Homo sapiens: one gene and its partners. The protein of the gene in region 4 interacts with the protein of the main gene of each other region in a pairwise test. Each region holds a gene or a part of one and is shown on either strand. Other genes may lie near its edges.

What was found.
Region 1: the proteins of DHX15 (region 4) and NKAP interact in a two-hybrid assay, tested with the Homo sapiens proteins (one large-scale study listed by BioGRID and IntAct).
Region 2: the proteins of DHX15 (region 4) and CAMSAP3 interact in binary tests that used the Homo sapiens proteins (3 or more experiments, as listed by UniProt).
Region 3: the proteins of DHX15 (region 4) and TRA2A interact in a two-hybrid assay, tested with the Homo sapiens proteins (one large-scale study listed by BioGRID and IntAct).

What each region holds. Positions count from the first base shown.
Region 1 is NC_000023.11:119,937,252-119,940,751, reverse strand, and holds part of NKAP (NF-kappa-B-activating protein), read left to right. Parts: intron 1-1,941; coding exon 1,942-2,022; intron 2,023-3,500. UniProt on the Homo sapiens protein: Acts as a transcriptional repressor. Plays a role as a transcriptional corepressor of the Notch-mediated signaling required for T-cell development. Also involved in the TNF and IL-1 induced NF-kappa-B activation.
Region 2 is NC_000019.10:7,612,863-7,615,833, reverse strand, and holds part of CAMSAP3 (calmodulin-regulated spectrin-associated protein 3), read right to left. Parts: coding exon 2,671-2,971; intron 652-2,670; coding exon 512-651; intron 417-511; coding exon 115-416; intron 1-114. UniProt on the Homo sapiens protein: Key microtubule-organizing protein that specifically binds the minus-end of non-centrosomal microtubules and regulates their dynamics and organization.
Region 3 is NC_000007.14:23,514,982-23,518,481, forward strand, and holds part of TRA2A (transformer-2 protein homolog alpha), read right to left. Parts: intron 1,548-3,500; coding exon 1,382-1,547; intron 1-1,381. UniProt on the Homo sapiens protein: Sequence-specific RNA-binding protein which participates in the control of pre-mRNA splicing.
Region 4 is NC_000004.12:24,539,555-24,543,054, forward strand, and holds part of DHX15 (ATP-dependent RNA helicase DHX15), read right to left. Parts: intron 3,473-3,500; coding exon 3,386-3,472; intron 2,469-3,385; coding exon 2,319-2,468; intron 1,395-2,318; coding exon 1,286-1,394; intron 746-1,285; coding exon 554-745; intron 1-553.

The DNA.
Region 1 (3,500 bases), on a different chromosome or scaffold from region 4:
AATTGTCTGTTACTTCAGGTGGGAAACCCTCTCAGTCTGACTCTGCATAGTTATAATACCTTTTCCCCTGATTAAGGAGGCAAAAACGATTTATACAAAAACTCATTGCAATTATATTTATTTTGGAAGGATTTTTAAAAACAAATGGAGTCACAAGCAGCTAAAATTTGAGAGAATGAGCCTTAGTCTTTGTTTTGTTTTGTTTTTTAGTTTATGAGGAATAACAAAAATTAAAACAGAAGAAACCATAGGCATAAAACAAAAGAAGAAACAAATTTTAGTGTCCTTCAAAGAATAGATACAAAATGCACTCCTTTTCCAAAAAGGAACTAAAAGGAAAACAGAGAGGGAACAAACCTTGTATCTCATTGAGTATAGTTTTTTTTTTTTTTTTTTTGGTTTTTTATTTTGAGATAAGAGTCTCACTCTATCACCCAGGCTGTCATGTGCAGTGGCGTGACCTTGGCTCACTGCAACCTCCACCTCCAGGGTTCAAGAGATTCTCCAGCCTCAGCCTTCTGAATAGCTGGGACTACAGGCACATGCCACCGTGTCCAGCTAATTTTTGTATTTTTTTTAGTAGAGACAGGGTTTTACCATGTTGGCCAGGCTGATCTTGAACTCCTGACCTCAGGTGATCCACCTGCCTCGGCCTCCCAAAGTGTTGGGATTACAGGCGTGAGCCACCACGCCCAGCCCCAAGTATATTTTTTGTTAAATGAAACTTTTTGACTAGGTGCAGTGGCTCATGCCTGTGATCCCAACGCTTTGGGAGGCTGAGGCAAGAGGATTGCTCGAGGCCAGGAGTTCAAGATCAGCCTGGACAACAAAGCAAGACCTCTTTTTTTTTTTTGAGACGGAGTCTCGCTCTGTCTCCCAGGTTAGAGTGCAGTGGTGCGATCTTGGCTCACTGAAACTTCCACCTCCTGGGTTTAAGCGATTCTCCTGCCTCAGCCTCCCTAGTAGCCAGGATTACAGGCATGCGCCACCACGCCTGGCTAATTTTTGTATTTTTACTAGAGACGGGGTTTCACCATGTTGGCCAGGCTGGTCTTGACCTCCTGATCTCAAGCAATCCGCCCGCCTCAGCCTCCCAAAGTGCTGGGATTACAGGCATGTGCCACCGCACCTGGCGGCAAGACCTCATCTCTACAAAAAAATAAAAAACTTTTATTTCGGGCCCGGTGCAGTGGCTCACGCCTGTAATCCCAGCAACTGAGGTGGATCTCCTGAGGTCAGGAGTTTGAGACCAGCCTGGCCAACACGATGAAACCCCATCTCTACTAAGAATACAAAAATTAGCCAGGCGTGATGGCGCATGCCTGTAATCCCGGCTACTAAGGAGGCTGAGGCAGGAGAATTACTTGAACCCAGGAGGCGGAGGTTGCAGTGAGCCAAGATCGTGCTACTGCACTCCAGCCTGGGCGACAGAGCGAGACTCCATCTAAAAAAATAAATAATAAAATAAAATAAAAACTTTTCTTTCATTTTCAGAACTTCAGTTGTTTTCTACGTCTAATGCATCATTTTTATTTTCTTCATTAATTCCTCGATTTCTGAAAACTGAAGGTTTGACCATATCAAAAGAGACTTCTCTTCACCTTTCATAAATCTGTAAACAAATGAAGTTACTTACAAATGTGAAGCTGTTTCTGTCACATATTACAGATGATGAAATGAGCAGTTAAGAGCTGTGTCATGCATTCAGCAGAATGGATGCACTTGACAGTCTCCCAGGCCATCATTTCTATAGTCTGTACCATTTGATAGTATCATCAGAACATCAGACCTTAAGTGATGAGTTTACATTTAAACCAAGTTTTTATCCATGTTTAAAATATAAAGGGAAAAAAGGCTTAACTAGACTCCTATTGAATTTGATTATATATTTAGGAAACAACTCAGCCATTGAGTTATAATTTACATGTCTTTATCTGCTAGGAGATTAAGTGAGAGAGAGAGAATTGGAGAATTGGGAGCTCCTGAAGTATGGGGACTTTCTCCAAAGAATCCTGAACCAGAGTAAGTGGTTAAAAAATATATTTTTAAAATGTTATAATATGTGTTTAAATCCTGAATCTATTGTGAAAATGTTTAAGTGAAGAACTTTAAATATATCTCACATTTTTCTTTCTTGTGATTTATGTTCTTCTACCCCTTAAGTTTTAAAAACATAGAACATATCTAAAGATTAAAACATGTTGCTAGTAGGTTTTAGCATAATCTAAAATAATTCCTGGAATATAATTTTCCTATTAATAGAAGGGTTCATTGTTAAATAATACACATTATTTTGAATTATTTTTTCTCAACTAAACTCAGTGGCAGATTGCATGCCAGATATTAACATTACAAAGAGATTTTTTTTTTTGAGATGGAGTCTTGCTCTGTCGCCCAGGCTGGAGTGCAATGGTGCGGTCTCAGCTCACTGCAACCTCCGCCTCCTGGGTTCAAGCGATTCTCCTGCCTCAGCCTCCCGAGTAGCTGGGATTACAGGTGCCTGCCACCATGCCCGGCTAATTTTTGTATTTTTAGTAGAGACGGCGGTTTCACCATGTTGGCCAGGCTGGTCTCGAGCTCCTGACCTCGTGATCCGCTTGCCTCAGCCTCCCAAAGTGCTGGGATTACAGGCGTGAGCCACTGCGCCCAGCCTACAAAGAGATTTTTTAAAACGAATATACCAGTATGGTTTTGTTAATATTCCTATATCCAATACTATCTGCAGACTTAATGCTTTTTCTTTTTGCTTATTTCTTTTCTCTTTGATGCTACTCATAAGTTTCTTCTTCCCTCTCTGTTTCTGTGCCAACTTTAGGTTGAGTTGAGACAATGTGCTTGACAGGTAAACCTGTAATTTGTGATTGGATAATAAAGCATTATTATCTGAAACTTGTTCTTACAGATACCTTTAGAAAATGCTTGAAGAGGCCAGGTGCGGTGGCTCACGCCTGTAATCACAGCACTTTGGGAGGCCAAGGCAGGTGGATTCCTTGAGCCCGGGAGTTCAAGACCAGCCTGGGCAAATAACAAGACTATTTAAAAGAAAAAAAAAAGAAAACACTTGAAGAACCTGAATGTATTGAATTAGAGTTGGAAGGAACCCTAAAAATAGTTTTCTTTCTTCTTTTTTTTTTTTTTTTTTTTGAGACAGAGTCTTACTCTGTCACTCAAGCTGGAGTGCAGTGGTGCGATCTTGGCTCACCATAACCTCCGCCTCCCAGGTTCAAGTGATTCTCCTGCCTCAGCCTCCCGAGTAGCTGGGATTACAGGTGCATGCCACCATGCCTGGCTAATTTTTGTATTTTTAGTAGAGATGGGGTTTCACCATGTTGGTCAGGCTGGTCTTGAACTCCTGACCTCATGATCCGCCCACCTCGGCCTCCCAAAGTGCTGGGATTACAGGCGTGAGCCACTGCACCCAGCCAAAATAATTTTCTAGATAATATTTAAATTACTCCAAGTATGATCTTCAGAGGAAAAGATTATATGATGTGGAAACT
Region 2 (2,971 bases), on a different chromosome or scaffold from region 4:
CCTCCCGGCACCCCTGCTTACATCTCCCTCCCCCTCCCCCCTTACCCATGGGGGCCTCACCCAGTGAGCCCCGGAAAGGGCACTGGGCAGGCCCCGTCCCCCAAGGGTCCTCACCCAGCAGGCCGCGGGCTGGGCTTCGTGCCAGGGCTGAGTCGTCACAGCAACCCGAGCGAGGCCGGGTGGCCCTCCGCCCGCCCCGACCTGGACCCCCGGACCCCGCAGCCCGGGGCCGCAGCACCTTATCGAGGTCGTCCATCAGCTTCAGCTGGGCCCGGCGCTCGTACTCCTGCCGCGTGAAGTCCCCCTTCCGGGGGCCCACCTCCTCCTCGGCTGGAGCCCGGGCAGCAGGGGCTGGAGTCGCCATCGGGACTGCGGACACAAGCGGGGCTGGGCCCGGGGCCTCCTCTTGGGCCAGCCTGCAGATCACAGGGAATCGGCATCAGAACCGCTCACGGGGTCCGCGGTGGCAGACAGGCCAAGGAGCGGGCGTCCCGGGCAGGCCCGGCCTCACCTCGCGGCCTCCTCCCTCCGCTGTTCCTTCTCCACCTCCTGCCACTGCTTGCGCCGCCGCGCCTCCTCTGCTCGCCGCTGCTGCCGCTCCAGCAGGCTGGCCCGCTTTTGGGCCATCTCGTCCTCAGGCTTGTCTTCATCCTGGGGACAGACGCCGAGTCCAGCCAGCCACCCCCTCCCCCAACATGGCTGGAGGCCCATCTTCCCTCCACCCAGCCTGCCCGCCACCCACCTGTGCTTTTGTTTTCATCATTGTTCTAAATGCACTTAGTTGGTGCCTACTGTATGCACAGCCCCACACTAAGTACTGGGACACAACAGGGATGGGATACACTGGGTGCCGCTCACACACACACTGCTTAACCCAACGGGGAAGACAAAAGCAGCAGACAGCAGTGAGTGCCAGCAAAAGCTCGTGTTGGGCACAGACACTCTACACTGCGGGAGGACCCCGGCCTGGCCTGGAGACACCCAGGAAGGCTTCCCAGAGGAAGTACCCTGTAGAATGATCAGGATTTAACTAGGTGGGCGTACAGAGCAGAGCGTTCCAGGCAGAGGGGACAGCTAGTGCCGAGGCCCTGAGGCTGGAGCAAACCTACTGGGGGGCACGGAAGTACAAGGGGGCCAGTGTGGCTGGGACACAGAGCTGAGGACAGTGGCGCAGGACTAAGTCAGAAGTGAGTACAGGCCAGACGCGGTGGCTCACACCTGTAATCCCAGCAGTTTGGGAGGCCAAGGCAGGTGGATCACTTGAGGTCAGGGGTTCGAGACCAGCCTGGAGAAACCCTGTCTCTACTAAAAATGCAAAAATCAGCTGGGCGTGGTGGCATGCTCTTGTAGTCCCAGCTACTCAGGAGGGTGAGACAAGAGAATCACTTAAACCCAGGAGGTGGAGGTTGCAGTGAACCGAGATCATGCCACTGCACTCCAGCCTGGGCCACAGAGCGAGACTCTGTCTCAAAAAACAAAAAACAAAAGAAAACAAAACAAAAAAAAAAAATGAAAAGGAAGTCCTCCCCAGGGCTTTGGGCTGTGCTCACTTTTTTTTTTTTTTTTTTTTTTTTGAGATGGAGTCTCGCTCTGTTGCCCAGGCTGGAGTGCAGTGGCACGATCTAGGCCCACTGCAAGCTCCACCTCCTGGGTTCACGCCATTCTCCTGCCTCAGCCTCCTGAGTAGCTGGGACTACATGCGCCCGCCACCACGCCAGCTAATTTTTTGTATTTTTAGTAGAGACGGAGTTTCACCATGTTAGCCAGGATGGTCTCGATCTCCTGACCTCATGATCCGCCTGCCTTGGCCTCCCAAAGTGCTGGGATTACAGGCATGAGCCACTGCGCCCGGCCACCCTGGGGAGGACTTTCATTCTAAAAGCAAGGGTAAGGGGAGCAGTCAAAATCCCCGACCACTCAGTGCAAAATGGCCCGGGATGGAGGCAGGCAGCAGAGGCCAGTCAGGTAACCCTAGGTGTCCCCGGCTGGGAAAGCCATGGGAATGGAGAGACAGTGGACACAGGGCAGGGCCAGGAAAGGGGTGGTAGGAGCGTGCTGGGGGCGAGGGGGTGAAGGAGAGGATGAGCAAGGAGGTGCGCTGAAGATCCTGGTCCTGTCCGTCTATCTGTCCATCACCCACCCACCCATGCAACCAGCCATTCATCCATCTGTCTATCCATGACTCCTCCCTGTTTCTCCACCCCTCCCCACATCTATCTATCCCCCTTGTCCGGCCACCCATACCTTGTTTGGGAGGGACATGACTGGGTCAGCCCCCACTGGAAACCCCTCACCCCCAAACATACCCGAGGGCCTCACTCATTAAGCCACAGGGGGAGGACCTCTCACCCCACTGCACCCCCACAGCCCCTTGTGGAAGTCCTTACCCAACAGACAGGGTCAAATCCCATCTGAGGCCCCTGTCACCCCACATACCTGCCCCCCACCGTGCAAATGTCCCTTTCCCCCCTCTCCCACCCATGGAGGCCTTACCCAGCCACTCACACCTGTTCTGTCCATTCATACCTGGCTCCCCATCTATCCCCCACCCGCCCACCCATCCTTCAGTAAAGCCCTATTCATCCAATAGTGGGTTTGTCCACCTCCCCCCGCCCCCACCCGCCCCCGCCCCAGGCCCAGGACCCTCCAGCCACCTGCTCGGGGACTCACCTTGTAGAAGAACCCCAGCCCCACCCGGGGCTCCCCCTCCGAAGACGCCTCCTCCTCCAAGGAATCCTCAGCACCAGCGGGGCTCCCGTCTCCCTCGTCCTCGGCGGCGGGATCTGCCAGGCTGCCCAGCGGGATCTCGATGAGGCCCGGCCGGGCGGCTGGCTCCTCGGGGGGCGTCTCCTCCGCCAGGAGGATGGAAGAGCGCGTCTGCACGGGCACCTGGCTCGGCGAGAACTTGCGCAGGTGGGGGAGGCTGTCTACGTCGTGGGGTGGCGTAAGCACCCTGGTCAAGGGTGCCAGC
Region 3 (3,500 bases), on a different chromosome or scaffold from region 4:
AAAACCAAAACTAAAACTCCTTCAATGTCATACATCCAAGACTCAATTTTTTTTATATATAACATAACTTGCCTCACAGAAATGTTAAAAGCTTTAAGTGTACTGAATAAAAGTGTTAGCTATGATTACTACAAAGTTTTTAATATTTCTTTGACCCCCTTACCCCATCAAAAAACTTTGAATATAACCCAGTATTCCCAACTCAATTTATGCTTTTCACTTGAATTCGTGGAACATATTTCTTTTTTTTTTTTTTTTTTTTTTTTGAGACGGAGTCTCGCTCTGTCGCCCAGGCTGGAGTGCAGTGGCGCCATCTCGGCTCACTGCAAGCTCTGCCTCCCGGGTTCACACCATTCTCCTGCCTCAGCCTCCGGAGTAGCTGGGACTACAGGCGTCTGCAACCGTGCCCAGCTAATTTTTTGTATTTTTAGTAGAGACAGGGTTTCACCGTGGTCTCGATCTCCTGACCTCGTGATCCGCCCACCTCGGCCTCCCAAAGTGCTGGGATTACAAGTGTGAGCCACCACGCCCGGCCGGAACATATTTCTTCCCAAATTTCATCTCCTTTTCTTTTTTTGAGACAGAGTCTCGCTCTGTCTCCCAGGCCAGTCTGGAATGCAGTGGCACAATCTCGGCTCACTGCAACCTCCACCTCCTGGGTTCAAGGGATTCTCCAGCCTCAGCCTCTCAAGTAGTTGAGATTACAGGCGTAAGCCACCACGCCTGGCTAATTTTTGTATTTTTAGCAGAGATGGGGTTTCACCATGTTGGCCAGGCTGGTCTCGAACTCCTGACCTTAGGTGACCCACACCCTTTGGCCTCCCAAAGTGCTGGGATTACAGGTGTGAGCCACCACGCCCAGCCTTCATGTCCTTTTTACTCAAACGTCATGAAAAGAAAAATATACTCCCGGCCAGGCATGGTAGCTCACGCCTGTAACCCCAGCACTTTGGGAGGCCAAGGCAGGTGGATCACCTGAGGTCAGGAGTTTGAGACCAGAGGGGTCAACATGGTGAAACCCCATTTCTAAAAACACAAAAATTAGCTGGGTGTGGTGGTGCACACCTGCAACCCCAGCTATTCAGGAGGCTAAGGCCGCAGTGAGTCGAAATTGCACCCCTGCACTCCAGCCTGGGAGACAGAGTAAGACTTTGTCTAAAAAAAAGAAAATATACTTCCTTTGCATTCTTTGTCATAAAACATGGTAAGCTTACGAAAGATGGTGGCATTTCCTTTACTTTGAAAGCTAAAGCAGCTTATTAAGGATGTTTCCAGAGTATCACTTCTAAACAATGGCCAAGCTCCCCTAAAAGCAAGATATGCCATGACTAAACACATAAAAGAGAAAATAAGTCTTCATTAACTTTTATAAACCACGTACCCTGCTGCCAGTATGTCTTCTCCGGTTAGACATTGGAGAATGGCTTCGGCTCCTTCGCCGCCGGTATTCTGGTGTATATGATCTACTTCGAGATCGTCTCCTATGAGAGTGAGAGTGGGATCTGGATCGAGTGTAACGTCTATGAGAATGTCTCCTTGACCTCGACCTTTGAGAGAAATACATTTAGGTAAAAATACTGAAACAAAATGGCTAAAGTCCTTCCCTCTTCCAAGAAGGTATACATATATCCCTAACTATTCTCAGGTCCTTCCTCCTTGCTTCTGAGGAAAGGGTATTCTTCCTTTGGTTCACTTAAGTCACTACATCTTCCACTCTTCTCAGTCAAGCCCCTCTACATTCACCCTTTTCACCTAACCTTACAAAAATGTTAAGGCCCCATCTTCTTTTAAAAAACAAAAAAAAAACAAAAAACAAAAACCCACTATTGCTATAAAATAAAATCGTGGCCGGGTGCGGTGGCTCATGCCTGTAATCCCAGCACTTTGGGAGGCCGACGCGAGCAGATCGCGAGATCAAGAGATCAAGACCATCCTGGCCAACATGTTGAAACCTCGTCTCTACTAAAAATACAAAAATTAGCCAGGTGTGGTGGCAGGCACCTGTAATTCCAGCTACTTGGGAGGCTGAGGCAGGAGAATCGCTTGAACCCAGGAGGCAGAGGTTGCAAGCCGAGATTGCGCCACCGCACTCCAGCATGGTAACAGAACGAGACTCTGTCTCAAATAAATAAATAAATCCTTTGATTCTTAGCTAAGTGCAGTGATGTGTGCTTATGTTCCCAGCTACATGGAAAGATGAAGCAAGAAAAATCACTTGGGGCCGGGCACGGTGGCTCATGCCTGTAATCCCAGCAACTTGTGAGGCCGAGGCGGGCGGATCACGAGGTCAGGAGATCGAGACCATCCTGGCTAACATGGTGAAACCCCTCTACTAAAAATACAAAAAATTAGCTGGGCATGGTGGCGGGCACCTGTAGTCCCAGCTACTTGGGAGGCTGAGGCAGGAAATGGCGCGAACCCAGAAGGCGGAGCTTGCAGTGGGCTGAGATTGTGCCACCGTACTCCAGCCTGGGCGACAGAGCAAGACTACGTCTCAAAAAAAAAAAAAAAAAAAAAAAAAAAGAGAGAAAGAAAGAAAAATCACTTGGGCCCAGGAGGACAAGTCTAGCCCAGGCAACATAGCAAGACTCCACACTTCTATTTTAAAAAAAAAAACAGAAACAAAGACAAAACAAAACAAAAAAAATCAGGCTGGGCGCAGTGGCTCATGCCTGTAATCCCAGTACTTTGGGAGGCCGAGGCAGGCAGATTACGAGGTCAAGAGATCGAGACCATCCTCGCCAACATGGTAAAACCCTGTCTCTACTAAAAATACAAAAATTAGCTGGGCGTGGTGGCGCACACCTGTCATCCCAGCTACTTGGGAGGCTGAGGCACGAGAATCACTTGAACCCGGGAGGTGGAGGCTGCAGTGAGCTGAGATCGTGCCACTGCACTCCAGCCTGGGAACAAGCACAAAACTCTGTCTCAACAAACAAACAAACAAACAAAATCCTTTTTGATTTTCTGCTACTTTCTCCATATAGTTCTTTGTCGCCCAGGCTGGAGTGCAGTGGCATGATCTCAGCTCACTGCAACCTCTCTCTCCCAGGCTCAAGAAATTCTTCCACCTCAGCTTCCCAGACAGCTAGGACTACAGGCATGCACCACCATGCCTGGCTAATTTTTATATTTTCTGTAGTGACAGGGTTTCGCCATGTTGCCCAGGCTGGTCTTGAAGTCCTGTTCAAGCAATTTGCCCACCTCGACCTCCCCAATTAAGCCAGTGTGCCTGGCCCATAAAGTTCTACATTCCCCTCTCTGCTAAGTATCATTTCCATTTCCAATTCTTCTTTAGCCTGCTGCAATCTAGTATCTGCTAAACTAATTCAACAACCACCTAAATGCCCATCAAAACTGGTAACATTTCTTTTTTTGGAGACAGAGTCTCACTTCTTCACCCAGGCTGGAGTGCAATGGCACAATCTCAGCTCACTGCAACCTCCGCCTTCTGGGTTCAAGTGATTCTCCTGCCTCAGCCTCCCAAGTAGCTGGGATTA
Region 4 (3,500 bases):
CTACCATTGTAAAAGAATACCATTATCAGATTAGATTTTAAGCCTAAAATTATACATTACTATTTCTATTTACTTGATATGAAGTTTGAAATTCATGTTTGTTCGGGTGCCATTGGAGTACATATATAGAAAAGGCTCAACTTAATGTATAGCTTTCAGTTTGTCACAGGCACACTTAATAGAGCTAAGTACTAGAGCAAAGTTCTTCCTGTACTTGCAGTAAAAAACAAAAAACAAAAAAACCACAAAGATAGCAGTGATGGACCTTTAACCAAAGAATTCAGTTACAACTGTGCTCAAACTTACTGCAATTTTTATTAGCACTCAAGAGAGCCAATGCTTTACTTATCTTTTGTGCACAATGACTTACTTTACTTTTGTAAGCACTATGTCATTACGAAGCTATTTACAAGGTATTTAGAAAACAAAATTAATTCCTTAAAACCATCTATAAAATCCACTATCATACTAAAAATTAAAAAACAAAAACAAAAGTGAAGTCCACCCAAACTTTGAAGAGCTGGGCTTTTTTTTGTTCCTTTCCCTCTATTACCTGACAACATAGCAGTAATAGATAGGACCTCATTAGAACAGTTGTAGTCACAACTTGCAATAACCATTTTTGCGAGCTGTGGATCTAGAGGAAACTCTGCCATCATGGATCCCAATTCAGTCAGATCTCCATCATCATTTAAAGCAGCCAGGTAATTCAAAAGTTCCAGGGCTCTCATCAGAGTTTCAGGAGCTAGTGGTAAAAGACAATCTATTAGACACGGTGCCTTAAGCAAGCAAAAATGTGACAAAGTACAAACTATTATAAGCAATCTCATTTTTCATTTTGCAGTGGACCAAACTCAAACTCAAACTGTCATCCAATTCAATTATACAGATCTAGCAAACAATGAATCATAAAAACATTGCAAAATTTTCCTGTAGGCAAAACTGTCTTCTTCCGAAATACATTAAATAATTGCTAATTCATCAATGTGTTTATCAAACTGTTTTTCCCCAAAGAAAACTTAGGAATTCTCACATTTTCATGCCCAGAGGATAATTCAATTTACCCAAACCCCCCCATAATAACTTTTGAAGAAAAAAAAAAAATGTGCTCATATAACTGTCACCTTTTTTAGTTTTAATGCTATCATGTAAGACTTAATCTTGATGCATACTGGATGGAAAAAGCAAAATGTATTTAATACATATATTAAATAGGATGGAGAAAAACACTAAGAGTCAATTTTGGTTAAAAGATCTGATAAAAATGTGTTTTGATAAGTCATACCTGGTGGATCCATAAAATCAAAATGTACCAAGTCATCAATACCAAGTTTCTTCAATTGTAACACAACTGATCCTAAATTAGAACGCAAAATCTCAGGATAGGTGTTATCCTAGCAAAGAACAAAAACATTTATTGGTTATGTTAAAAATGCCTCAGTCTCCTCGTTCCAGAAAACAAAAATCTGCTGCCTCCTGAGCTATTTGTTTTGGCATTACTTCTACACTGTCTCAGTAGAGATAAATACTTGTAGGCTAGACTAGAGAGAAACCATTTTTCTCCAACTATCTTTATAGTATTCAGTGTTTGCTACTGTCCATAAAACTCGCAACTGCAGAAAGAAATTCGTATAGTAGTCTTCACTCATCTGAACTCGCAATTTCCATGGTTTCAGTTAAGCAGTGTCAACAGAAAAAATTTTAAAGATTCCAGAAAAAATTCATCAAGTTTAAATTGTGCACCATTCTTAGTAGTATGCTATATACACTATACACCCATTTGTCACTTAGCAACCATCTGTTATTAGATCAACTTTTGCAGTATCACAGTGCTTGTGCTCAAGTAACCTTTTACTTAATAATGGCCCCAAAGCGCCAAGAATATTGATGCTGGCAATTTGGATATGCCAATGAGAGGCCCTGAAGTGCTTCCTTTAAGTGAAACGCTGAAAGTTAGTAAGGAAAGAAAAAAAGTTGAAACCTAGTAACAAAAGAGCAAAAAAATCACATCTAAAGAAAGAATGCATCTTCTATCAGTGAAATTGTAAAGAAAGATATTTATACATAGTATATGTAAGTAAGGTTCAGCATATTCCAGTTTTTAGGCGTGGGAGGGGGAGGGTCTTGGAATGTATCAGCCTGGAATAAGGGGGTGTACGACTATCTAAGTTAATTACACCATACATTTCACTCCTGGAAAAGCTAAGGAGCTTTTAATCCTAAAAGGCAAGATTAAGTAAATAAGGCAATGTTCTTCTGGTAAGATAATTCAACCTAACATTTTAAACATATCGGCAGGAAACGACAATACCCCATACCTGCATTTCTGTTTTATAAGCTTTCTCTGTGTAAAGTCTGAAGCATTTTCCAGGTCTGGTACGTCCAGCTCGACCAGCCCTTTGCTGAGCTGAAGCTTTACTAATAGCTGTCACCAAAAGGGACTCAACTCTGATTCGAGGATTGTAGACCTATTGGAATTGAAATAACACAAGAGTCTTTCTTCAGTCAAACACAAAATTGTGATGCAACAGAAGTATCCAAAGCCCACAGTTAATTCCAAAATAAATAAAGAAATATCGATAGCCATAAATCATGCTGCTACAATAGACAACCCACCATCCTGAACCTTAAAGTTCTTTCAGACATTCTAATTCGATCATCTGAAAGACTCTAACATGAAAAACTTCTTGTCAAACACACAGCTTATATAATCCTTACTCCTCCTAATTTCAGTTCTATCAGGCTGACCTTGTTCCTTGCTTTTTATATGCTGGGCAGTCAAGGATTCTGCCCGAAAAGAAACCTTCACTTTCAAAACTCGACGGTCTGAGTACTATTACTCTGTTACTGTTTAATGAAAAAATTTCCATCAATAACAAAATGTAATCAATTTATCCAAAAGATATTTGAAAAATAAAACGTATTTATTGAATAGCCACTTCACCTGCATTTCACTTCATTTAGTATACAGCACTGTTAAACTAGAGGAGTAACATAGTACTGTTTTCAAATAGTGTGCCTAGTTGACAGCAGTAACTCTAATAATGTTGGGAGAAGTGACTGAACTGCAGGGATAGAAATCCTGTACTTTATTACTAAACCCATACTGTTAAATGAATATACAAGCCAAAACACCCACCGTCACTACACTGAAACAAAGAAAGCAAAGCAACTCTAAAAGAAAAAAAAGCCTAGAATTACATATTAAATACTGTCTTAATTTCTGAGAGCCAGCCAAAACATAAAGGGTTCATACAGCAGAAATTTGCAAATAAAAAAAAAGATAGGAAAATAATTCTGAAAGGTAAATTTTAGCCATTAAATGAATTGGTTGTAAGTACTGTTAAACCAACTCTAATTTATAAAGTATCCACTAAATATGTACCTTCTGTTTCGCAAATCCAGGATCAATCACAAACACCACACCATCTATTGTCAAAGACGTCTCTGCTATGTTAGTTGACACAACTACCTGTTAAGAAATAGAGTATATAAATTAT